7 linked regions of the Homo sapiens genome follow. The protein of the gene in region 7 purifies or fractionates together with the protein of the main gene of each other region. This does not show direct contact. Each region holds a gene or a part of one and is shown on either strand. Other genes may lie near its edges.

What was found.
Region 1: the proteins of NANOS2 (region 7) and CNOT8 purify together in Homo sapiens (affinity purification with mass spectrometry; 2 studies listed by BioGRID and IntAct, with this or other methods). This does not show direct contact.
Region 2: the proteins of NANOS2 (region 7) and IL36A purify together in Homo sapiens (affinity purification with mass spectrometry; 2 studies listed by BioGRID and IntAct, with this or other methods). This does not show direct contact.
Region 3: the proteins of NANOS2 (region 7) and CNOT2 purify together in Homo sapiens (affinity purification with mass spectrometry; 2 studies listed by BioGRID and IntAct, with this or other methods). This does not show direct contact.
Region 4: the proteins of NANOS2 (region 7) and MINK1 purify together in Homo sapiens (affinity purification with mass spectrometry; 2 studies listed by BioGRID and IntAct, with this or other methods). This does not show direct contact.
Region 5: the proteins of NANOS2 (region 7) and CNOT9 purify together in Homo sapiens (affinity purification with mass spectrometry; 2 studies listed by BioGRID and IntAct, with this or other methods). This does not show direct contact.
Region 6: the proteins of NANOS2 (region 7) and GPBP1L1 purify together in Homo sapiens (affinity purification with mass spectrometry; 2 studies listed by BioGRID and IntAct, with this or other methods). This does not show direct contact.

What each region holds. Positions count from the first base shown.
Region 1 is NC_000005.10:154,868,627-154,872,126, reverse strand, and holds part of CNOT8 (CCR4-NOT transcription complex subunit 8), read right to left. Parts: intron 1,467-3,500; coding exon 1,305-1,466; intron 398-1,304; coding exon 253-397; intron 1-252. UniProt on the Homo sapiens protein: Has 3'-5' poly(A) exoribonuclease activity for synthetic poly(A) RNA substrate. Its function seems to be partially redundant with that of CNOT7.
Region 2 is NC_000002.12:113,003,960-113,008,258, reverse strand, and holds IL36A (interleukin-36 alpha), read right to left. Parts: upstream 2,801-4,299; 5' UTR 2,388-2,800; coding exon 2,378-2,387; intron 2,286-2,377; coding exon 2,172-2,285; intron 1,662-2,171; coding exon 1,522-1,661; intron 428-1,521; coding exon 215-427; downstream 1-214. UniProt on the Homo sapiens protein: Cytokine that binds to and signals through the IL1RL2/IL-36R receptor which in turn activates NF-kappa-B and MAPK signaling pathways in target cells linked to a pro-inflammatory response.
Region 3 is NC_000012.12:70,323,433-70,326,932, forward strand, and holds part of CNOT2 (CCR4-NOT transcription complex subunit 2), read left to right. Parts: intron 1-3,500. UniProt on the Homo sapiens protein: Component of the CCR4-NOT complex which is one of the major cellular mRNA deadenylases and is linked to various cellular processes including bulk mRNA degradation, miRNA-mediated repression, translational repression during translational initiation and general transcription regulation.
Region 4 is NC_000017.11:4,895,451-4,898,561, forward strand, and holds the end of MINK1 (misshapen-like kinase 1), read left to right. Parts: coding exon 1-43; exon of another isoform or gene 44-44; intron 45-247; coding exon 248-382; intron 383-552; coding exon 553-653; intron 654-742; coding exon 743-892; intron 893-978; coding exon 979-1,138; intron 1,139-1,223; coding exon 1,224-1,363; intron 1,364-1,753; coding exon 1,754-1,837; 3' UTR 1,838-2,611; downstream 2,612-3,111. UniProt on the Homo sapiens protein: Serine/threonine kinase which acts as a negative regulator of Ras-related Rap2-mediated signal transduction to control neuronal structure and AMPA receptor trafficking.
Region 5 is NC_000002.12:218,589,339-218,592,838, reverse strand, and holds part of CNOT9 (CCR4-NOT transcription complex subunit 9), read right to left. Parts: intron 536-3,500; coding exon 437-535; intron 224-436; coding exon 132-223; intron 1-131. UniProt on the Homo sapiens protein: Component of the CCR4-NOT complex which is one of the major cellular mRNA deadenylases and is linked to various cellular processes including bulk mRNA degradation, miRNA-mediated repression, translational repression during translational initiation and general transcription regulation.
Region 6 is NC_000001.11:45,680,034-45,683,533, forward strand, and holds part of GPBP1L1 (vasculin-like protein 1), read right to left. Parts: intron 1-3,500. UniProt on the Homo sapiens protein: Possible transcription factor.
Region 7 is NC_000019.10:45,912,714-45,915,969, forward strand, and holds NANOS2 (nanos homolog 2), read right to left. Parts: upstream 2,066-3,256; 5' UTR 1,981-2,065; coding exon 1,564-1,980; 3' UTR 501-1,563; downstream 1-500. UniProt on the Homo sapiens protein: Plays a key role in the sexual differentiation of germ cells by promoting the male fate but suppressing the female fate. Represses the female fate pathways by suppressing meiosis, which in turn results in the promotion of the male fate.

The sequences.
Region 1 (3,500 bases), on a different chromosome or scaffold from region 7:
TCATTAGGTTCATGGCCCTCGAGTGAAGAATGCCTGCCTTAAGATGACAGAAGCAGAGGGTTCCCTTCATGGCCAGGTTAAAGATCGTTACCACACAAATATCTGACCAAATCAGCTTTATATTATACCCTGTCTACCACCACACTAGCATCTAGTACTCAAAAATGCATGCTGAACACGTAACAATAAAGCAAAGTCAGCTTTTTTTCTGTCCTTCTTTTTGTTACTGGTATTAAGAAAAACATCATATACCTTAAGATTTTTGCAGCTCTTCATCAGGTATTTCACATCATAAATGGATGGGAAGAAAAGGTTCAGAATATGAAAGAATTCATGTTCCTCTTCTGGCAAACGAGAATCTGTAAGCAACTTTACCATATAGCCAAAATCATAGCCACTACAAGAGAATAAACCACAGAGGTTAAAAAAGCAGTGGTTATCAGGCCCCAGTGTTCAACCATTTTATTTCTCAAAGCTTGTAAATGCTACTTCATGTTAGGAACTTTCACTTTTTCTGAGTAGTTTATCGTACTATAATCTGAATCTTTTTTTTTTTTTTTTTTTTTTGAGACAGAGTCTTACTCTGTTGCCCAGGCTGGAGTGCAATGGCACGATCTCGGCTCACTGCAACCTTCACCTCCCAGGTTCAAGCAATTATCCCTGCCTCAGCCTCCCAAGTAGCTGGGATTACAGGCACCCGTCACCATGCCTGGCTAATTTTTGTATTTTTAGTAAAGACAGGGTTTTGCCATGGTGGCCAGGCTGGTCTCGAACTCCTGACCTCAGGTGATCCACCTTTCTCAGCCTCCCAAAGTGCTGGGATTATAGATGTGAGCCACTGCGCCCGGCCTATAATCTGAACTTTCTAATAACAACCTAACAGACTAATATGGGAGATATAAAAAAGTACCCAAGGGGTTTAATTGTAGATTCGATTCACCAAAAATCCAAAAGTACTGAGAAGTTAAAATAAGGAGAATCTGGCTTTCAAGTACCTAAGAAACTCCGAGACAGCCATTTAAAAGATAACCAAGTACTGTGACCCTCTACACCCACCATATTCCCACTTGGAATTAAACCCACTGATAGCCACATGATAGAGCCAAATACTGTGTGAAACAAACCAGTATATGAGCCCCAGTGTTTTGTGAAAAACTGAAACATGGGCAACAAGCACCAATTCAACTTCTGGCTGCTGCTGCTGAACAGAACAGTCACTAGGACTGCAAAAATGACTAAGAATTCAATTCCCTGCTTCAGTGTAGCCCAAAGTGAGAGAGAAATACACATTCCCTAGGACTGACCTATGAAATGAAAGCCATTTGACATTGTCACAGAGAACCACTCCTGATGTCATAAGCAGCTCTGCAAAGTGCAGTGTGTCAATCCCTTCCTCTTCATGCTTCTGAAACTGTAGTCCTGAGTTAGCAAGGAGATCTATGGAATCCTGGGAGTACATGTCCTCTCTAAAAAACAAGGTGTTTATTTATTAACTGGTGAATAATGAAACAGAAGTAGTGGCCACACTATTACCACCACCTTATAATTATAGTACAAGTATTTTTGAAATGCTTTTCCTAACTTAATAGATCAATTCACTCTTTCCAACATTCAAACAAGCATGCAAAGTAGATCATATTTCTGTGACAGATAGAAAAATGAGATTTTCCTCCATAAACTAAATTTCCTAATTATAATAGGTATACATTTGCTCATTATTTAAAAAAAAAAAAAAACCAATAACACCAGGCACAGTGGTGCACGCCTGTAATCCCAGCACTCTGGAAGGCCAAGGCAGGAAGATCACTTCAGACCAGGAGTTCCAGACCAGCCTGGGTGACAGAGTGAGACTCCGTCTCAAAAAAAACAAAACAAACAAAAAAAAAACAACACACACACACACACACAAACAAAGATTAGCCAGGCATGGTGGTATGCACCTGTAGTTCTAACTACTCCGGAGGCTGAGGTGAGAGGATTGTTTGAGGCCAAGAACTGGAGGGGACTCACACCACTGCACTCTAGTCTAGGTGACAGAGCAAGATCCTGTCTCAAAAATAAAATAAGTAGGCCGGGCATGGTGGCTCACACCTGTAATACCAGCACTTTGGGAGGCTGAGACAGGCAGATCACTTGAGGCCCAGAGTTCAAACCAGCCTGGCCAACATGGTGAAACCCTGTCTCTACCAAAAATACAAAAATTAGGCCAGGCGTGGTGGCTCATGCCTGTAATCCCAGAAATTTGGGAGGCCAAGGTGGGCGGATCACGAGGTCAAGAGATCAAGACCATCCTGGCCAACGTGGTGAAACCCTCTCTCTACTAAAAACACAAAAATTAGCTGGGCGTGGTGGCGCACGCCTGTAATCCCAGCTACTTGGGAGCCTGAGGCAGCAGACTCACTTGAATCTGGGAGGCAGAGGTTGTAGTGAGCCAAGCTCGCGCCACTGCGCTCCAGCCTGATGACAGAGCGAGACTCCCTCTCAAAAAAAAAAAAAAAAACACAAAAAAACAAAAATTAGCCGGACGTGGTGGCATGCCCCTGAATCCCAGCTACTCAGGAAGTTGAGGCATGAGAATCACTTGAACCCAGGAGGCAAAGGCTGCAGTGAGCCAAGATGGCGCCACTGTACTCCAGCCTAGGAGACAGAACAAGACTCTGTCTCAAAAAAATAAATAAACTTAAAAAAAAAAAAAAAAAAACCAACAAGGCCGGGTGGGGTGGCTCACGCCTGTAATCCCAGCACTTTGGGAGGCTGAGGTGGGTGGATCACCTGAGGTCGGGAGTTCGAGACCAGCCTGACCAACATGGAGAAACCCCATCTCTACTAAAAATACAAAATTAGCAGGGCGTGGTGGCACATGCCTGTAATCCCAGCTACTCAGGATGCTGAGGTTGGAGAATCGCTTGAACCTGGGAGGCAGAGGTTGCAGTGAGCTGAGAAAGCGCCATCACACTCCAGCCTGGGCAACAGGAGCGAAACTCTATCTCAAAAAAAAAAAATAAACCAACAAAAAAATATTGAGGCACAGATGGTGGGCAGCCAGCTAAGATGACCTGACGCGCCTTCCAGCTGATTCAGGCTGCTTGCCTCAGACTCAGACACCGCCACCATGGCCAGTGAGTCTCAGGGGATCCAGCAGCTGCTGCAGGCTGAGAAATGTGCCACTGAGAAGGTATCCAAGGCCCATGAGCAAAAGACCCAGAGGCTGAAGTAGATCAAAGGAGCAGCTAAGGATGAAACTTAACAGTACCACCTGCAGAGGGAGGAAGTGGTCCAGGCCAAGGAAGCCACAGCCCTGGAATCCCAGTAGCTGCAGCACTCAAGTGGCGTAGGAAGCCCAGAAGAGGACCAGCCTCCAGACCTACTTCTGGCAGAACAAGGCTTGGATAGCCTCTTGGCCACCGTCTGTGACACTGAGCAGAAATCCATGAAAACTACAGCATAAATGGAAAGGAGTGGGAGAAAGAAGTGCCTGTTCCATGAACTGGCGTTTTAGA
Region 2 (4,299 bases), on a different chromosome or scaffold from region 7:
CTCATGGCAAGGCCCTCAATTTCCCTGGACTATTTTCCACATGGCCCCAGGGAGAGGGACCAGTCCAGCACTTAGGTCACTGCATGAATATATTGGGAGGCAGCAAGATACTCTTAGGTGGAAAGTCCAATAACAAATTCTCCCTGCCCATTCCAGGCTAAGATTATACTAAGATTTTCCCTGCATGGAGACTATCCTCCAAACCCAACTGACCTTAAAACAGCATAGTTAACCCAAAGTCAGTAGTGTTGGCTTTCCCCAGTTCTTGGGTAAGGATGAGAGGACAGCCTCCTTCAGAGCTGACAGCGATGAACCAGCCAGGGAAAGCCACAGACTCGAAGGTGGAGTTCCTGCCACTCTGGCTGTGGTAGAAGAGAAAGGACTTCACAGGCTCGGGTTGGTTGTACAAATCCATTATATCCTTTTCCTGAAGGGTGCGAAGGAGACACCAGCAAGAAACATAACTGTTTGAATGTTTCACATTCTTTACACACTGATATTCCACGTCCAAGGATAGCATTCCCTACTCATTGAAGCAGCTTGGAGACCTCTGTTTCATATTATGGGATTGAAAATCATATAAATTAAATTCTTTTAAGATTATGGTTGAAACTCAGGCTACAAATTTTAATGGTTTTTAATGTGAGGCTCTGAAAAATGTGTTGACATGAAAGTTTTTGAGAATACAAAGCATTGATTGGGCCATTATTTGTTGTTCAGAAACAGAAACTTAAAGAATATTTATGTAACAGTTACTGTAAATTTCAAATTAAAACAGTTATTTTCTGTCAGGTTTCTGCACCTTCAGCACTATTGACATTTTAGGCAAGATGATTCTTTGTTTTCAGGGTCTGTCCTGTATAATAATATAGGATGTTTAGTAGCATCCCTGTCATCTACCCGATAAATGCAAGTATCACACCCCCATCCCAGGTTGTCACAACCAAAACATCTCCAGACATTGACAAATGTCCCTGGAGCAATATCACCCCTGGCTGAAAAACACTGTTTTATATCTTGTCATCAAGTTGAGTGTCTGCTTATGCTTGTTTACTGAAAAGGGTCAAGAGAGTTCCTGTAGTACACAGAGGCCTGCTATAATTATCTTTTTTTAATAATGGAAAATTGCGATTATTGAAGTGTTTATTACAGAGAATTATGTTTGTTCATTTAAAGTTGCAATGTATTTTTTGCCAAAAAGATGTTTTAATAAGTTCGTCTACTTTGTGATAATTAACTGCTAAAATGTCCTTGCTGATTTTACTCTGTGTGTGTGTTCTATTGAAGTTAGACATCATCCTTGCCAAATTATTAATATTTTTGTAAATTAAAATAATAAGTCATTTTAGTAGGTTTGTTTCAAAATGTCCCTGCAATTTTTCTTAGTCTTTCATAACATATACCAACCCCAAGGAAACCAAAAATAAAAATGCATGAGCATAATAAGTACATTGTCTTTTAAAAGATCCTGAAATCTGAGTTTCCATCAAATAAATGGCAGGACCTGTCTTCCACACTCACCTTCAGCTGCAGTGTGGGCTGGTCCCCGACTTTAGCACACATCAGGCAGAGATTGAGTCCATTCAGGCCCAGGTAGATGGGGTTCCCTCTGTCTTTCTCAAGGGTCTCCACATGTCGGCATGAGATTAAGGCAATAGTGACTGGGAACACGATGTGAAAAGTGGTGTTCAGCTGCCATTTCCAGGGTGGTACCTCTGAGCCAGAGTTTTAAGGGAATCTGCTAACTGACACTCACAGTGCACTCATAGAATGGTCACCTCACCACCCACCACCTAACCGGGACACCCATCCTATGTTTGGGGAACACTTTCCATTAGAAAAGTCAGTCTTTCATGGATTCAAAAACTGGTCCTCCCATAGATTACCCTCTTTTGTCCTACTCTTACTCCTTGAAGTTTCTCAGAATACGTCTTCCACTGTTTTTCATAGGCTGACCCTTCAGTCTCCCTTAAGCCTTCTCTCTCTTCTCTGACTTCATGACCATAGTCCCAGAACAACCTTATGCTCACCCTCTATTCATTATTGTCTGTGAGATGCTCCTCTCTGTAGATATGCCCGGTTAACAAGCCCACTGTGGAATAACATCTGAGCACCAAACACACAACAGCACTGGCCAAAGGAGCTGCCTTTCACAGACCGTGGCTACTCACCTGGAGACATACGGTCCTTCCTCGGGACTGCTATGAGCGTCTGGTCCTGAAGAACCCACACCCGATGATTGATATCCTGAATGCTCCCCTGCTGAGGTGTGTCAATTTTCAATGCTGTTGAGAAAGTCAAAATGTAAATTAGTAAGAATGAGAGCACAGAATATCACCCCCTTGTCAATTTTTCGCCCTTCCACGAGGATCTTTACCTTTTTCCATTGTGGTGGTGTTGTTTCAGAACTGCCAAGGATAGGAGTCCTTTTATGTGCAGACCGACCCCAAGAGAGGACCTGAGTCAGTCCCAAGCCACAGTTTAACCCTGGGTCAGATGAAAGACTGGCGGCCAGCCCAGCAGTGACCCCAGTCAGAATCTATACTCCCAGAACTCACCCAGCACCCTTACTTTGTTGGATGCAGTCTACCTCCAGCAGAAGCAGCTGCACCTATGAATCCTGCCCAGGCCTAGACCCAGGAACTCTAATATGACAAAGAGTGCCAAGGCCAAAGACCTGGAAGCAAAAAAAATCAGAGGTCACCAGACTTTCCAGCATAGGCCACACTGATAATCTGTTACGAAGGACCCTGTATCCCTACCATTATGAACAATGGCTTCTACTGCACTTGGGTTTTCTGACAGGCTGTAACAGGGCCCAGGCCTTTTATCCACATGGGCAAGGAAGGAAGTTCTGCCTCACTAAGTCTGGCACTGCCCAACACTCAGGATATTTTCTAGTTCCTGATGCCAGAGGATTTAGTGACTCTTTATGTGAACAGCATGGTTAAGACTTCTCCAAGCAACCTGAAACATGAGGGCATGCTAAACTTTTAAGAGCAGGAAATATAGTCACAGATACTGAGTTGAGAAACATTACGGGACTTCTTCCGGGTCAATGACTCATCTCTGATGCCACAAAATGAAACGATGGAATTATTCCTAAGAGTGGGAGCCCTCAGTAAGTGCAAGGTAGACTGAGGAGGGATAGGTCTCTTAAGACCTCTGTAGCTTCTAATCACTCCTGGTCCACAGGAACTATATTCTTGGTCAATTTCAGACCAGAAGCCCACTCACTCCAGTGACCCTCCTCCAGCTTCTCAGAGCCACTGTGCATGCTGCTTCTCCATGGAAGAAGGGAGTATTACTGTAGCAAAGCCAGCTCCTGAGCACTCTAGCCACCTCAATGGACTCTAGATCACTATCTCTAGTATAGGTAGCGTGATAGTAAATTTTAAGTGTCAATTTGACTGGTTTAAGGAATACTTAAAGAACTGGTAATACATTAGTTTGGGGTAAGTCTATGAGGGTGTTTCCAAAGAAGATTGGTGTGTAAGTCAGTGTACTAGTGGGGAACATCTACCCTCAACGTAGGTGGGATCCATCCAACTGGCCGGGGGCATGGATGGCATGGAAAAGACAGAGAAAAGGTGATTTTCTGTCTCTCCTGGAGCTGGGGCATTCTCTCCTGCCTTTGGACATTATAACTCCAGACTTTGGACTCCAGGACTTAATATCAGCATCTCCCTGGGTTCTCAGGCTTTCTATCCCAAAGTGAGAATTACACCAGTGGCTTCCTAGTTCTGAGGCTTTAGGACTTGAACTGAGCATGTTACCTGCATCCCAGGGTCTCCAGCTTGCAGGTGGTCTGTCATGGGATTTCTCAGCCTCCAAAATTGCATGAGTTCATTCCCCTAATAAATCCCCTTTCATACAAGAGGTCATCAAAAAGTTCATGGAAAATGCATATTATGAAAAAAACTATGCATGGATTTTGAATTATTTTGCACCAAAATAAACTCCTACTAACTTGTTATAAGGTGTTTGAACAGGATCTAGTTTGAGGCACTAAGAAAGGTAAGACATCAGTTTGAAAAGAGCCCCTATAAGATCAACATGAATTCTTCTAAAATTGAAGCAAGAACAAAAATCAAATTTATGGTGAAACTTGGGTGGAAGAATGGTGAAATCATTGATGGCTTATAAAAAGTTTGTGGGGACAATGACCCAAAGAAATCAGCAGTTTACAATGGATAACTCATTTTAAGAAGTGAGACAATATTGAAAATAGCACCTGCAGCAGCAGACCATCCACATCACTTTGCAAGGAAAAAACTAATCTTTTTGTGCCCTAGTTGA
Region 3 (3,500 bases), on a different chromosome or scaffold from region 7:
TTATTTGGATGTTTCAGATGAGATAGGGCACATTCAGGATGGTACGGCTGTAGACTATTTGGATATTTCAAAGACAGGAGTAATCAGGTATCTTGGAAAATGATTAGGAAAAGAATTTACTGATGAGATTATATTTGAGATTAGCATTGAACAGACTGTGAGTAAAGTTGTTTTAGCAGTGGGAATAACATCCACAGCATGGGATAGATTTAGGAATGGCCTACTTTATCAAGACAGGAGACACCTGTTAGGCTGTTATATTGATTTCAGCAAGAAGTACAGTCTTCACATTTCTGAGAGATTTATTTCAAGATCATTGCTACTTTTAAAGTTCAAGAACACAGCTATAGAATAACATTTTCCACCATAAAACATCCTTTTTGTGTGTGTGAAAACCATCACTTGATTAGACTATCTTATTTTATCTTCACTTTTGGTACCACCTGTTGGCTTTCTTTTCATAAGTATGACACACGCACACACACACACACAGAGCTAATATTTATTGAATATTATCTACTGTGTATCAGATGCGATTTTAAGTATTTATGTGAATTAACTCATTTAACCTTCACAGCAGCTCCACAAGAGTTTAAGGAATTTGTTCAAGGTTACACAGATTGTAAGTAGTAGAACCAGGATTATATTACTTTGTAAGAGTAACTATGTGAACATGAGCTGAAAACATCAGTTTCTTTGATACCTGAATGCCATGACCCTAGAAAGCCATTTGTACATAGTAGAAACTACCAGTGTTAAATCCACAGGTGCCAAGAATCTGTTGAATTAAGACATTGTGATAGAATGTATTCATTCTAATAATTATGTATTTATTGGGTGCCTACAATGAATGAGGTATTATTTCAAGATATAGATAAGAATATAGCAAATAACAAATGTCCTGTTTTTATGGAGAGAGAGAGAGAGAATGTTAGTAATACTGCAGTAGTCCAGGCAAAAAAAAATGGGATGACTTGGACTAGTGGAGGTGTTGAGAAGTGATCAGATTTGGTACATTTTGTAGATAGAGCTAACAGGACTTGATGATGTAGGAGTGAAAGAAAGGGATCAAGAATGATTTCTAAGGTTTCCGACCTGCAAACCTTTGTGAATGAGTGCCACTAATCTAGAGCAGAAATTTAGGTTGAGGAAGTGTAGAGTGTACTTGGGAGATCCACACAGCTATTCCACAGGTAAAGATTCTGTGGCACTCCTCTAAAGATCCAGCCAGATGTTGAGACTCTCAGCTGATTCGAGCACAGCAGCCACTTCTCATAGTTGTGGAAGCCACTTAGCTCCATCCATGTTTCTTGTCTTATACATTCTTAGCACCTAGAAGGCAAAGCCTGTTCCTCCGCCAGGTGTATAACTTGTCCTCATTTTCATATATCTCGTCATTCTCTCAGACTGAACTATTGTAACATTTATACCCACCTGACTCCCCACCACTGCCACCACCAAACACCTGGCTGAGTCTCATATGTTATTTAATTCATATACTATCTTCTGTCTCCTCCAGGAAAATTTTTCTGCTTCCAGACTCACTCTATTCCCAAGTCTGAGTTAGTGTGGTCCCTCCTACAAGCAGTCAAGCACGCTATGTCTACTGCATGTAAACACCTTGGTCATAGCACTTATTTATTTTTAAGTAGTCTTTTATATCTCTAGAACAAGAGAAGGGAAAGTATTCTTGCTGAGGAGTTAGATATGAGTAGTAAAGGACAGATTTGAGGAAAGGAATAGAGAAAGAAGAAAGAAGATTATAAATCAGATATGTAGTGTGTAAACAGAGTAAAATGCTTGTTAAGGTTAGAAAACATCTTTGGGTCTTGACAGAATTTTAATACTCTAGAACAGTGGTTCTCAACCCTGACTGCACCCATGGAAACACCTGGGGAATTTTTAAAATTCCACTGCCATGATTGCCCAAAATCACAATTGCTGGAGAGGAGACCTAGACATTAAAGTTCCCTGGATGATGCAAACATTATTAACTACCATTAAAAAATGGAAAATGATATTGGTTGCAAAAAAGGCATTGAAATAGGAGTCAAGAAATTGGATCATTGTCTTTAATGCCTCATTACTTGTGATCTTGAGCAAGTCACTTAATGCCTAGTGTGAATTCTTTATCTGTAACCTACTTGGATAATCTCTGGAGTCTTTTCTATTCTAAAATACTTTGAATTTAATGAAGAAAATTGCATAAGGAAATAATTTTACAGGAATCATTAACCAGCTAAGTGCAAGACAGGTTGAAGGTAAGAAGCCATTGAGATAAAGCACCATTTATGTTGTCCTTTTTAGTATGGGCATGCCAGTGAGTTCCTAGAGGAAGCTGGCTGCTTTGCAAATGGAAAAGGGGACACTTTAAGGCATCAGTTAAGGACTACTCTCTCCTGCCCCTATAAAGATTTTAGGGGACTTTATTTAAGTATGAATATTCAGGGATTTGGTTGCTATGATTTTATTTTTTCATGTAACTTAATATTTTTTATTTCTAGCAAAAAATTGAATAAAGAATGACGTATTTTGCCATAAGTGTTTAAGTGATGTGCTGTTAATCAGTTTGTGCAGTGGAAATAATTAATGGAATAATTTCTTAGATCATATTCTTTAAGGGTTTCTGAAAAATGATCAATAAGGAATTTGACTAACACCCTGCCAGATAAGAGGTAGGAATCTATTTAGAATGTGTTCGTATAGTCCTCCTAATATTGTGTTGTTATTATCAATTGTTAGATTGAAAGAAAAATTTGACTCAAAATTATAACCTTTTAAACTTTTTTTAAAATTTGTTTTTATTCTTTGTAAAAAGGTGATAACCTTTTTTATAAGATGATTATAAGAAGGAATTGAGAGGAAGTAGTATAGTGCTTTGTTGATAAGTGCCCAATAAATTTTAATTTTACTGTCCTTCCAGTCACCTGCTCATATACAAGCTCATTTATACATATTTATATTTTTGCCTGTTTTAGTTTTTTTATGCCAAGAAAAACTCCTTGAGTTCTTCCCATTTTTCTTTTTTTTTCTTTTTTTCAGCTGTATGTCCTATTCTTGGCATAATATTTTAGAGATGATTTTTCTGTGATTGTTTCTAATTATACTAGTGAGAGATTAGATTTTTTTCCCCTTGACCCTATTCAGTTGTGTTAGTTTGACTCAAGCAACTCAAAGTTAATGACTTAGTATATTTAGTTTCCAAAAAACAAATCTTTATATATACCTTTCCAGTGCCATTCTTTATGTTTTAAAGAAATTCAGTTTTTAAAATAAATTTAAAGTAACAATTATTAAGTATTCAGGGGTTGATGATCCAATTTGAAGTGATATATTCTTTTTTGATCTTTTTATACTACTTCAACAAAATTAAACTTAGACTTTTTGAATTTATTAGCTGTTTTTGTGAAGATTAATTTTAGAAAGCTAAAATTAAACACTGAAAGTAAGTTACTTTATTCCATACGGTCTCTGTCCAGTTTTAGCACTAAAATCAGTTC
Region 4 (3,111 bases), on a different chromosome or scaffold from region 7:
ATGGATGTGCTGGAGGGGCTCAACCTGCTCATCACCATCTCAGGTACAGGTGTGGTGAGTGGGGGAGGGAGGAGGGGCTCAGCTCCTTGGCGCTGTCACCATCTTCTGCCTGGGAGGAGGGCAGGCACTGGAAGGTGGGGCCACACTTTCTCACCCCTTGTGGTATGCTGACAGAGGAGGCCAGGGCGGTGGCATTCGGGCCTCAGATGAGAATGGGGGCGGGTGTGTATGTCTGTCCGTCCCTCAGGGAAAAGGAACAAACTGCGGGTGTATTACCTGTCCTGGCTCCGGAACAAGATTCTGCACAATGACCCAGAAGTGGAGAAGAAGCAGGGCTGGACCACCGTGGGGGACATGGAGGGCTGCGGGCACTACCGTGTTGGTGAGGATGTCCCAACAGAGTGGCCAGCGCATACTTGTTCATGAAGAGAGAAATGGATCTGGGAGCCAGGGACTTGGGGCCTGGGTGGGGCAGTGTAGTGACAGACCACGGGGAGGCGCCCGTGGCGCAAGAAGGGAAGTCTCAGCATCCCTCTTCTCTCCCGCCCCCAGTGAAATACGAGCGGATTAAGTTCCTGGTCATCGCCCTCAAGAGCTCCGTGGAGGTGTATGCCTGGGCCCCCAAACCCTACCACAAATTCATGGCCTTCAAGGTAATCCCAGCCTCGGTCCCTAACACCATCTGGAGTCCCAGCGCCTCTCCCCGTGCCCCTGAGCCCTCCTCTCCTCCGGTTCTCTGCAGTCCTTTGCCGACCTCCCCCACCGCCCTCTGCTGGTCGACCTGACAGTAGAGGAGGGGCAGCGGCTCAAGGTCATCTATGGCTCCAGTGCTGGCTTCCATGCTGTGGATGTCGACTCGGGGAACAGCTATGACATCTACATCCCTGTGCACGTGAGCTTGGCGGGGCTGCTGGGGGAGTGGGATGGCCCAGTCTGGGCACCAGACACGGAGACTCTAGTCCCCCTCCTTCTCCCCAGATCCAGAGCCAGATCACGCCCCATGCCATCATCTTCCTCCCCAACACCGACGGCATGGAGATGCTGCTGTGCTACGAGGACGAGGGTGTCTACGTCAACACGTACGGGCGCATCATTAAGGATGTGGTGCTGCAGTGGGGGGAGATGCCTACTTCTGTGGGTGAGTGAGCTGCCGCCCTCCCAGCCACATGCCCCGAGGTGGCCCCGGGGTGCAGCCTGCTCAGCCCCTCACCTGTTCCCCACAGCCTACATCTGCTCCAACCAGATAATGGGCTGGGGTGAGAAAGCCATTGAGATCCGCTCTGTGGAGACGGGCCACCTCGACGGGGTCTTCATGCACAAACGAGCTCAGAGGCTCAAGTTCCTGTGTGAGCGGAATGACAAGGTGGGAGGCTCCTTCCCTCTGAAAGCCCTGCTGTCCCGGCTGCCATGACCCTAGGCCCCTGGGCAGAGTTCTGGGGAGAGGATGGTGGTGGTGGCTTCCTGAAAGCGGGCCCCTCTGGGAGCTCAGAGGGCAGTCAGCCACTACCACTGCCCTGCGCTCCCTTCAGATTCCGAGGACTTCCCAGCTGGCCCCCAGGGGGCGAGTGGTGCACCCTCTCCCCTAACATCCCAGCCTGCCTTTCCTCCGGGTGAGGGGCACTGTGAGTCTCCTCCTGCAGTCTCTGTGTCTCCCTCAACTCTTCTGCCACCCCTTCTTCCCTTCTTTCCCTCTCCCAGTTGAGACACCCCCCCAACCTCAGCCCTTGGTGACTTCTTCTCCTGCCCCACCCAGGTGTTTTTTGCCTCAGTCCGCTCTGGGGGCAGCAGCCAAGTTTACTTCATGACTCTGAACCGTAACTGCATCATGAACTGGTGACGGGGCCCTGGGCTGGGGCTGTCCCACACTGGACCCAGCTCTCCCCCTGCAGCCAGGCTTCCCGGGCCGCCCCTCTTTCCCCTCCCTGGGCTTTTGCTTTTACTGGTTTGATTTCACTGGAGCCTGCTGGGAACGTGACCTCTGACCCCTGATGCTTTCGTGATCACGTGACCATCCTCTTCCCCAACATGTCCTCTTCCCAAAACTGTGCCTGTCCCCAGCTTCTGGGGAGGGACACAGCTTCCCCTTCCCAGGAATTGAGTGGGCCTAGCCCCTCCCCCCTTTTCTCCATTTGAGAGGAGAGTGCTTGGGGCTTGAACCCCTTACCCCACTGCTGCTGACTGGGCAGGGCCCTGGACCCCTTTATTTGCACGTCAGGGGAGCCGGCTCCCCCCTTGAATGTACCAGACCCTGGGGGGGGTCACTGGGCCCTAGATTTTTGGGGGGTCACCAGCCACTCCAGGGGCAGGGACCATTTCTTCATTTTCTGAAAGCACTTTAATGATTCCCCTTCCCCCAAACTCCAGGGAATGGAGGGGGGACCCCGCCAGCCAAAACATTCCCCCCATTCCCGACCCCCCTCTCCTCTTCTAGCCCATGCCCTTCCCCGGTGGAGGGAGGGAGCAGGGAGCCCTCACTCTCCACGCCCCTTGCTTGCATCTGTATATAGTGTGAGCAGCAAGTAACCCTTCTCCCTCCCCCCCCACCCCTCCTCAATGTAGTGGCCTTGGATATCCTGTTTGTTAATAAAGACAATTCAACCAGCTCCCACCATGCAGGCCGCATGTCCTTGCTTTCTGTCAGTACTGTAGACTAGGCAGAGAGAGCCTCCAGGGTGGGGAAGAAAGGGGCAGGGTGGGCTGGGATCTGCAATGAGTGAGCCTCATGGGGTGGGATGGGCAGTGCTGGGCCAAGAAAACCTAGAAGAAATGACTGTGGAAGGGTCAGGGCAGCCTCAGCCTTAAACCTGTGGGCCTGAGGGCCACCAGCACTGAAGGTGTTTGGTTCCCACCCGCTCCAGCAGAGCCAGACCAGGGAAGAAGAGGGTTTCCTGGCTACAGCCTCCCTGTGTGCAAGTCCTGCAAAGGGGTCTCCTGTTTGGCTATGAAATGAATATAGATAGATAGCTCACAAGCTGGCAGCCACCAGAGTCCCGTGGGGCTGAGCCTTAGAAAGGCTGGGAGGTCAGCAAGGCTGAATGAAGGGCAGTCCTTGCTTTCTGGAAGACTGGCACCTGAGAGCCTATGTGAACCCTTTCCTCCTGCTGACCCCTG
Region 5 (3,500 bases), on a different chromosome or scaffold from region 7:
TGTCTCAGACAAACTAAATGCAGTTATATCCCCACTTCCCTGTCCTAAAGACACAGGAGCTATGCCATGAGATTAGGAAACTGTTCAGCAGAGTATTTCCCTAAAGTCCTATACATCCTATAAATGTTTACCTGGGGTTATCTGAAAGTCGAAGGTAACATCTCACTACATGCTTCAGCAGACGGGCAGAAGGCTCTTTGGATAGCTGCAGGACCATCTTACCCTGTTTCCCCCAAAATAAGGGGAGGGGTTGGAAAAAACACACAAAACACAAACAAATTCTAATTGACATCAGAGATCAGATAGTCCAAGAATCATAAAAGGTTCCAAAATTGTTAGTTCTAGTCAGAGGACTGAAGTTGTTCAATGCCAGTTATAAAGAGATTAAGCTTTGTGATGAGAAGTAGTTGTAAAGGGGATAGATGAAAGAACTCACCAAGATCATGGCAACATGGGAGAAACGCTCATACGTCTGACATATATAAGCCAAACCAGTGTCATCTAACAAGATCTTCTGGAGGATGAATGTGGCAACCTGAAGCAAAACAAAATCGAAGAGTTTATAAAGTTGCTCAGATTTAATCTTCTCATTTTCTACTCATTTTCCCAGGCATGACTATCAGTCAGAAAATTGAGCAAGCAGGGATCCTTGTATATTATGTACAACTTTATCATATATGTATAGTACAAAGAATAATAAATATTACCATGTTGAACATTACTTTGTACCAGTTTTTTTTTCTAGAGGCTTTACATGCTTATCTTATTTTTATAATAAATCAATGAGGTAGGTACCATTATTATTCTCACTTTACATACAAGGGTAGGTTCCGTGTAATTATCAAATTCTTAAAAACTCAGAGACCTTCTCATTTACAGAGTACCTACTATGTGCCCGGTATAACTGTTAATCAATAATGCACCAGGTTAAGGTCCCAAGTGACAAAGTTACTATGGCACAGCTGAGATCCAAGCCTCATTTGAATATCTAAGGCTCTTCTCTTTTCCATAGGCCAAGATGATTTATTCAGCTATGCCTCCTCTCTTCCAGATGAAGTAAGGCCTTTCTTTCTTTTTTCTTTTCTTTTTTTTTTTTTAGATGGAGTCTCACTCTGTCGCCCAGACTGGAGTGCAGTGGCTCCATTTCAGCTCACTGCAACCTCTGCCACCCTGGTTCAACTGATTCTCCTGCCTCAGCCTCCCGAGTAGCTAGGATTACAGGCTCCTGCCACCATGCCTGGCTAATTTTGGTATTTTTAGTAGAGACGGGGTTTCACCGTCTTGGCTAGGCTGGGCTTGAATTCCCTGACCTCGTGATCCACCTGCCTTGGCCTACCAAAGTGCTGGGATTACAAGCGTGAGCCACTGCACTCGGCTGAGATAAGGCCTTTTTTGTTCTTAAAAGATCTTGAAGAAATAAGATTTTCACGCTTCTCTTTGAAGATTATCTAACAGTAATAAAACATATCCTGGCTGTGAAGCTTATATGTGGCCTCAATTTTTCCCTCAACTTGAGCTCATTAGCTCTTACATAAAAGAGATATTAAAATATTAGTTTAATTTAAATTAGACAATCACGATAATGATACTCTTTCTTGGCTGCTCATCAAAATGAACTGTGGAATTATTTTACTATTTTATTGGGGTTATAACACTGTAGTAGGCTGAATAATGGCTCTCAAAGATATCCAGGCCCTAATCACCAAACTCTGCAAATGTTACCTTAAATGAAAAATGGGACTTTGCAGACGTGATTAAGTTAAGGATCTTGAGATGGGGGATTATCCCTGTTTATCCAAGTAGGCCTTAAATGTAATAACGAAGTGTCCTTAAAAGCGATGTAGAGAAGGCCAGGCAAAGTGACCCATGCTGGTAATCTCAGCACTCTGGGAGGCCAAGGTGGGAGGACTGCTTGAGGCCAGGAGTTCAAGGATGCAGTGAGTTATGATCATGCCACTGCACTCCAGCCTGGGCGACAGAGAAAACCCCATCTCTTAAAACAAACAAACAAACAAAACAACAACAACAACAACAACAACAAGAGAGATGTAGGGAGAGATTTTACCACAAAGGAGAAAGCAATGTGACAAGCAGAAAGAGATTTGAACATGCCACATCGCTGGATCTGAAGAGGGAGGGGGCCATAATCCAGGGAATGCAAGAAATGCAGTTCTAGAAGCTAGAAAAGGCAACAAAAAGACTCTCCTCTATATCCTCCAGAGAAAGCATGACCCTCCTGATACATTGACTTTAGATTGGTGAAACTCATTTAGAACTTGTGACTTCCAAAACTATAAAACAGTAAACTTCCATTGTTTTAAGCCACTACCCTTCTAGCTTGTGGTAATTTGTTATAGCAGCAGGTTATATAGGAACCTAATATAAACTTACACACAGTGAAGTGTGTTAAGTGCACTAATCTTAAGTGTACCTTGAATTTTTACCTATGTACACATTATGTACTATAACCAGATTAAAATACAAAATATTGTATAAAATACAGAATATTTGGGAGGTGGAGGCAGGCAGATTGCCTGAGCTTAGGAGTTCAAGACTAGCATGGGCTACATGGCGAAACTCCATCTCTACTAAAAATACAAAAAATTAGCTGGGTATGATGGTGTGTGCCTGTAGTTCCAACTACTCAGGAGGCTGAGGCATGAGAATTGCTTGAACCCAGGAGGCAGAGGTTGCAATGAGCCGAGATCACTCCACTTCACTCCAGCCTGGGTGACAGAGTGAGACTGTCTCAAAAACAAAAAACAACAACAACAAAAAAAAAAACAGAAAAAAGCAATATTTCTACCAACTCAGGATTCCAGCATTCCCTTGTACCTTTCCCCAGTCAATGTTCTTTCCTCAGAGCTAACCACGAATCCAACTTATTGCCAGTAATTGGCTTTGCTTGTTCTTAAACTTCACATAATCAACATACAGTATGAATTCCCATGTGTCTGGCTTCTTTTGCTCAACAATGCCTTTGACAGTCATCCATATATTGAATATTTAAAATAAAAAGCTTAAAAATAGCCAGGTATAGGGATGTGTGCCAGTATCAAAGCTACCTACTCCAGAGAGGGAAGTGGGAAGACTGCTTGAGCCCCGGAGTTCAAGGCTATAGTGTGCCATTATCATGGCTGTGAATAGCCACTGCATTCCAGCCTGGGCAACATAGTGAAACCTTGTCTCTTTAAAAACAATAAATTGGTCAGGCACAGTGGCTCATGCTTGTACTCCTAGTACTACGGCAGAAGGCAGGAAGATCCTTTGAGCCCAGGAGTTCAAGAGTAGCCCAGGCAACATAGGGAGACCTTGTCTTTACAAAAAATAAAAATAATTAGCTGAGTGTGGTGGAGCAGGCATGTGGTCCCAGCTACTTGTGAAGCTGAGGTGGGAGGATCAACTGAACCTAGGAGGTCGAGGCGGCAGTGAGCCATGCCTCTCTACTCCAGCCTGGGTGACAGACAGAGATCCTGTCTCTAAATAAATAAATAATTTAA
Region 6 (3,500 bases), on a different chromosome or scaffold from region 7:
CATGCCACTGCACTCCAATCTGAGCAACAGAGCAAGACCCTGTCTCTACAAAATAAATAAACTTTTATCAGTTTCAGCAGCACCAAAAGGCTCTATTTCCCTATGATTACAAGTAAACAGGCTATTTGTAACATTTTCAAAACTATAGTTTTTTTAAACAAATGAGTGATTTAATAGTAGTGACTAACAGATTGAGACACGCTTTTTTTTTTTTTTTTTTCTTGAGACAGAGTCTCGCTGTGTCACCTAGGCTGGAGTTCAATGGCACAGTCTTGGCTCACTGCAACCACCACCTCCCAGGTTCCAGTGATTCTAGTGCCTCAGCCTCCAGAGCAGCTGGGATTACAGACATTCACCACCATGCCCGGCTAATTTTTGTATTTTTAGTAGAGACAGGGTTTCACCATGTTGACCAGCCTGGTCTTAAACTCCTGGCCTCATGTGATCCGCCTGCCTCAGCCTCCCAAAGTGCTGGCATTACAGTTGTGAGCCACCATGACCAGCTGAGACATACTTTTTTTTTTTAAAAAGAATCATTTAAAAGCATCTCTAAAAATCTCTTCTTAGATGAGCTTCACTTCCAATGCAAATATTAATTTTTAAGTTAGAATAGCAAATTCTGGACCTAGATGGCTCTGTCACACACTAGCTGTGTGACTTTGAATAAGTTATTTCACCCCTTTTTGTCCCAAATACCTACCTAATTTGGAGACTCTTGAATTGTTGATTAAATGAGTGAATGTATATAAAGTGTTAAGAGTAATGCCTGGATGTTGTTCCCTGCAAAAAGAAAAAAGAATAGTGCCTAGCCTACAGTGAGTATACCATAAGTGCAAATAATAAAATGCCTAATAGTTGGAGGGTAGAAAATAGGGAAAAAAATTCAGTTTTGAGAAATTTTCAGATTGAATATGCTGAGACAACTATTCATTAGTAACCAAAACCAGGAAACAAGAACACTGAAAACCCATGATACTTGGCTCAATTTTATAACAGAATAAATATACAAGTAGGAAAAAAAAAAGGCAGGAAAGAAACTACCTGGAACAGTTAATACTGAATTGGGCACCAAAGCAAACCAAACACTCCACTTTACTTAGCATCTCAAACGAGAGTAAATAAACCATAAAGTTATTCTATGTTGCCCAACAGAGAAATTGCAAGAAAATGATACAGATGAGAACCACTGAACAAACCAGAAAATAAAAATCCCCAAATACACAGAATCACCTAACAAATTTAGTCTTCTCAGTCTTCTCTATCTCCAAATCAAATCTCAATCTAAGCCTCTATATCCAACTACCAATTTACAAGGAATCAAGAAAATCTAGAATGTGGGAAACTGCAGGACAAATGACCTGGTTTCTTCAACAAAGTACAAGGAAAAAAACTGAGGAGAAATATGCAAATTAAGGCATTTAAAATGGCAGCCAATTGCAGTTTGTGGGACCTAGATCCTGATTCAAATAAATTACAAAGGTCAACAGAAAAGTAGTACCTAAGAAAGAAAAACACCCCTCCGTGTGCAACTCATCTGTGCAGATTTCACTGAATTTCACTGGATTGGTGTGTTAAAGGATGTTCATTAAAGACAACTTCTCTAATAATCATGAAGTTCTTACCGTCAGACATTATTTTAAGAATTATACAAATATTATTTATTACAACAACCCTAGGAGAAGGTACTATTATTGTTCCTATTTAACAGATGAAGAAACAGGCAAACAGTCTCATTTAAATAATTCACTCAAAGTCACAAAGCTGTAAGCAGCAAAGCTGAGATTCGAACCCAAATGGTCTGGCTACAAAGCCAACCACTGATTACCATACTATGCCATTTCTCTGTGTGCTATGGTGGAAACTATGCTTTGGAATCACAGAAAGCGGCCCAAATCTCCATCTCTATGTTACCGAAATTACTTAACTTCTTGGAACCTCTGTATATCTCTTGTAGAAGGGTTAATATCTACTTCTTTAAATAGTAAGGAATAATAAGATTACATAATTGACTCTATTACAGCATCTGAGTTTATGAAGCCCACAATAAATGGTTCCTATTGCCCTTCCTGCCATACATGGTAAGACGAATTAAAAAGTAGAAAAATTTACTAACAGCACAAAAACTGGAAAAGCTCTACTTTCAAATTAACTAAACAGCCCCAAAACCAACTTTTCTATATACTTATAAACTTTAAAGATAGCAATAATTCAGACAATAACTTTTTTATATACCAAACTTTTAAACTTAAGCAGAAACAGAGTTTGCAAGCTCAATTTAAAGTATAGCTAAACTTAACCAAATGAGATTTTTCTGGGGGAAAAAACTTACTCCACACAAATAGACCTACTGCTCAGAAAAGGGTACTAAAACTTTGTTCATTCTGGTGATTCTCTAGGCTGACCTCTGGTTAACAAAAGGCAAAGTGGTTTTTATCTTAGAAAAGGAAGGTGAACTTAATGACTTTGTTAAAATCAACTCCTTTAAGAGTAATTGCTTTTTATGTTATCCTCCAACTATTAAGTATTATCTGTTAAACCGTAAAGTTCTTTGTTTTATGGTCATCTAGATACTCCCAATCCCTAGTTTCTTAACAAAAATAAATGATTGAGCTGTTTTAGCTGAAAAATGATTCAGCTAACAGATCAATTATTTGCCTTAGTAAAGAAAAATAATAGGCTCTTTTAAATGTTTGCCTAGCACGTTTGAAATCACCTATAAAAATTCAATTTACATAACATTAGAAATATATCTACCTCAGTTAAAGTATACCTGTGGACAAAAGTTCAGTTCCTCTTACTGAACTATTTTCCAAGTTTGATTATAGGCTGTTTGAGGCAGATTTCAGTGGGAAATAGGAAACACTAAGTCTGATTTAGAAGTAACTTGGGCAATTAGGTCTCTAACAGCACAACCACGTATTAAATTCCAGACAACAGCAACTACAGCCACTTAGGGGGTATGTTATTTTTCCCCTCATCTATCTGAACAACCATAAATACACCAAAATTTGCCTTTCCCATTAGTTTTTTTTTTTTTAGTTGGAATCCTTTAAAATTTTGTCTGCCTTTCATCTTTTAGACCAACAGTCTTACTTTCATGTTTAAAGGCAGTGACCATAACAGTCAAGTTAAACACAACAACTTAGATTGCCTAAATTTGAATATAGGCCTTTTTTTTTTTTTTTTTTTTTTTTTTTTGAGAGGGAGTCTCGCTCTGTCCCCAGGTTGGAGCGCAGATCTCGGCTCACTGGAAGCTCTGCCTTCCGGATTCATGCCATTCTCCAGCCTCAGCCTCCCGAGTAGCTGGCACTACAGGCGCCTACCACCACGCCCAGCTAATTTTTTGTATTTTTAGTAGAGACGGGGTTTCACAGTGTTAGCCAAGATGGTCTCCATCTCCTGACCTCGTGATCCGCCCGCCTCGGCCTCCCAAAGTGCTGGGATTACAGGCGTGAGCCACCGCGCCCGGCCTGAATATAGACTGTTACCTACCAGCTGGA
Region 7 (3,256 bases):
GCCGAGACCGCACCATTGGCACTCCAGCCTGGGCAGCAAGAACGAAACTCCATCTCAAAAAAGAAAAAACAAAAACCAAAAATAAAAATTACCTGGGTGTGGTGGCGTGCACCTGTAGTCCCGCCTACTCGGTCACCCCGTCTCTACTAAAAATACAAAAATGGCCAGGCGTGGTGGTGCATGTCTATAATCCCAGCTACTCCGGAGGCTGAGAGGCAGGAGAATCGCTTGAACCCGAGAGGCAGAGGTTGCAGTGGGCCGAGATCGCGTCATTGCACTCCAGCCTGGGCGACAACAGCAAAACTCCGTCTCAAAAAAAAAAAAAAAAATTAGCCAGGCGTGGTGGGGCGCACCTGTAGTCCCAGCTATTCAAGAGGCTGAGGGAGGATAATCACTTGAATCCGGGCAGTGAGCCAAGATCGCACCACTGCACTCCAGCCTGGGCGACAGAGCAAGACCTTGTCTCACAAACAAACCAAAGACGGAAACAGATACAGCCATTTCAAAGACGACTAGAAAACCTTTTTATTCACCAGAGCTCAATACTCAGGGTCCCGACCCTGTGCCAAAAACTGAACAACTTAAAATCTGACGGGGGCCCTTCTTCTCTTTGCCCCTAAAATAAAAGCTAGGCCATTGCCATTCCCATCCGGGTACTCAAACCCCCTTCTTATCGGCGGTTCCTTGACTTGAACGTTGGAGGTTGAAAAACACAGGAGGAAAAAAAAATGTCCTTTAGTCAACTATCACGATTTGGGGGGTCGGACGGGAGGTGGTCGAGAGATATGCTTCTCGCTGGGGGAAAGGACCCATCGGTGATTTGGGGATGGGGGCAGGTACCGGGTGCAATGGGCTGAACAAGGGGAAGAACAACCAGGGGGCATTGAAAGGTGTCAGCTCACCCCACGGCTCTCCATCCACAGGTGAGCCTGCGAAGACACGGTGCCCTCCAGTGATACGGTGCTCTCCAGAGTCCTACTCCGCTCCTGACGGATGGGTACTGAGGTCAGGGAAGGAATGAACAGGCGTGGTCCACGATGACACCGTGGTTCTGCAGGAGGCTGAAGATGGAGAAGGCTGGTCTTAAGTCGACATCCCATCTTGAAGTTCTTGAGTAGGCACTTCTCAGCCAGCCTTGTTCAGTATCTCCTAAGGGCTGGCTTGGGACAGCACCGTGGAATCCTGGAGGTTCAAAAATCCAAGAACTCCACAAGGAACAGAGAAGTCGAAGGGGCAGGGCTCCAGTCACCAGCAGGCCCCACGAGGACAAAAGATCCATGAACCGGGGCCCAGAGGGCGCTACAGGGCCGTGCAGGAAGGGTTCCCGCGGCACCAAGGACCCTCAGGCCAACGCCCACAGGCCAGAGCTCCGAGGGCTGACAGGTCCAAGGGGGCGGGGCTGGCCTGGCTCCCAGCAGCCTCCACTGTTTCAGGATCCAGCCAGGGTGGAGTTCTGGGGGCCAGAAATTCCAAAGGGCTGGGTGACTGGAAGAGAGAGTTTAGGGACTTGGGTGGGATGGACCAGGAGGGTCAGGGGTGCGGGTGGTGAGCATCTCACGATGCTCAGCGCTTGACCCTGCGTCCGGCCGAGTTGCGCCCGCTGCGGCGGTAGAGGGACTGCTGGCCACCGTTAAGCGGGCAGTACTTGAGCGTATGGGCCTGGTCACCGGTGGCCCCGCACACGGGACACACGTAGTGCCTCAGGATGGGACACACCACCACGCCATCCGGTGTCTTCAGCTGGTGTGAGGAGTAGACGTGGCGGGACTCCCCGTTGTGCTTGCAGAAGTTGCACAGGGTCCCCAGGCCCCCGTTGGCCCCTGGCGCCCCCAGCCCCTGATCCTGCCCCAGCGGAGGCCCGGGACTTGGCTCCTCAATCTCTTGGGTCTCCAGCCTTTGACCCCGACTTGCGATCAGCGCCCACACCACCTGGCTCAGGTTGAAGTAGTCCTTCCACATGTCGAAGGGTGGCAGCTGCATGGCACCAAAGCAGGGGTGGTGGGCCACAGGAGAGGGGCTGGGGCTGGGGGCCCGTGGGCAAGGGCAAGAGCAGCAGGCGTTTCCCAGAGCAGAAGGGAGCTGCATCCCCTTTTATAACGCCCAGAGACTCTTCTAAGTAAAGGTGGAGCTTAGGATTTAAAGGGCTCACTCCCTGCCCATAACCCCCATCTGACTTTAGTTCTTCACAGAGATGTGGAAGGAGGTCATTCCCCTGATCTCTGGTCCCAGCTCTGCTGCCAAGGTGCTCTGTGACCTCTGGGAAGACACTTCCATTCTCTGTGCCTCAGTTTCCCTATCTGTTCAAAGAAAGTCCATGTCTGCAAATATCCCCCACCCCTAGGCTGGAGGGGCTGCACCCTTCATAGACTTCAGAGTTATTCCTAATCATCATAGCAGCCAGGCTGGGCGCAGTGCCTCACACCTGTAATCCTGGCACTTTGGGAGGCTGAGGAAAGAGGATCGCTTGAGCCCAGGACCTCTAGGCCAGCGTGGGCAAAATAGCGAGACCTTGTCTCTACAAAAAATAAAAAGACAAAAATAATAATAACAACATGACCTGATTTATTTTATTTATTTATTTACTTGAGACGGAGTCTTGCTATGTCGCCCAGGCTGGAGTGCAATGGCACGATCTCAGCTCACTGCAACCTCTGCCTCCTGGGTTCAAGTGATTCTCCTGCCTCAGCCTCCTGAGTAGCTGGGATTACAGGCGCCCACCACTAAGCCTGGCTAATTTTTTTTTTTTTTTTTTTTGTATTTTTAGCAGAGACAGGGTTTCACCATATTGGCCAGGCTGGTCTCGAACTCCTGACCTCAGGTGATCCACCTGTCTCTGCCTCCCAAAGCGCTGGGATTACAGGCGTGAGCCACCGCACCCGGCCTAGTATTTTCATTTTACAGAGAAAGATATGAAGCTTGGAGAGGTTAAGGAATGTATCCAAGGTCACACAACAAGGAAATGGCAGAGTCGGGTTTCATAATCACTCTGGGAACTGGGAATTGATGTTAAAAGTGGCAGAGGAACTTGGCACAGAACAATCTCACTTAGAATGCCCCCTCTTGGGCTAGGCATGCTGGCTCACGCCTGTAATCCTAATATTTTGGGAGGCTGAGGCTAGAGAATCACTTGAAGCCAGAAGTTTGAGACCAGCCTGGGTAACATAGTGAGACCCTGTTTCTACATATAATACAAAATCAGCTGGGCATGGTGGCATGTGCCTGTAATCCTAGCTAGTGAGGAGGCTGAGGCAGGAAG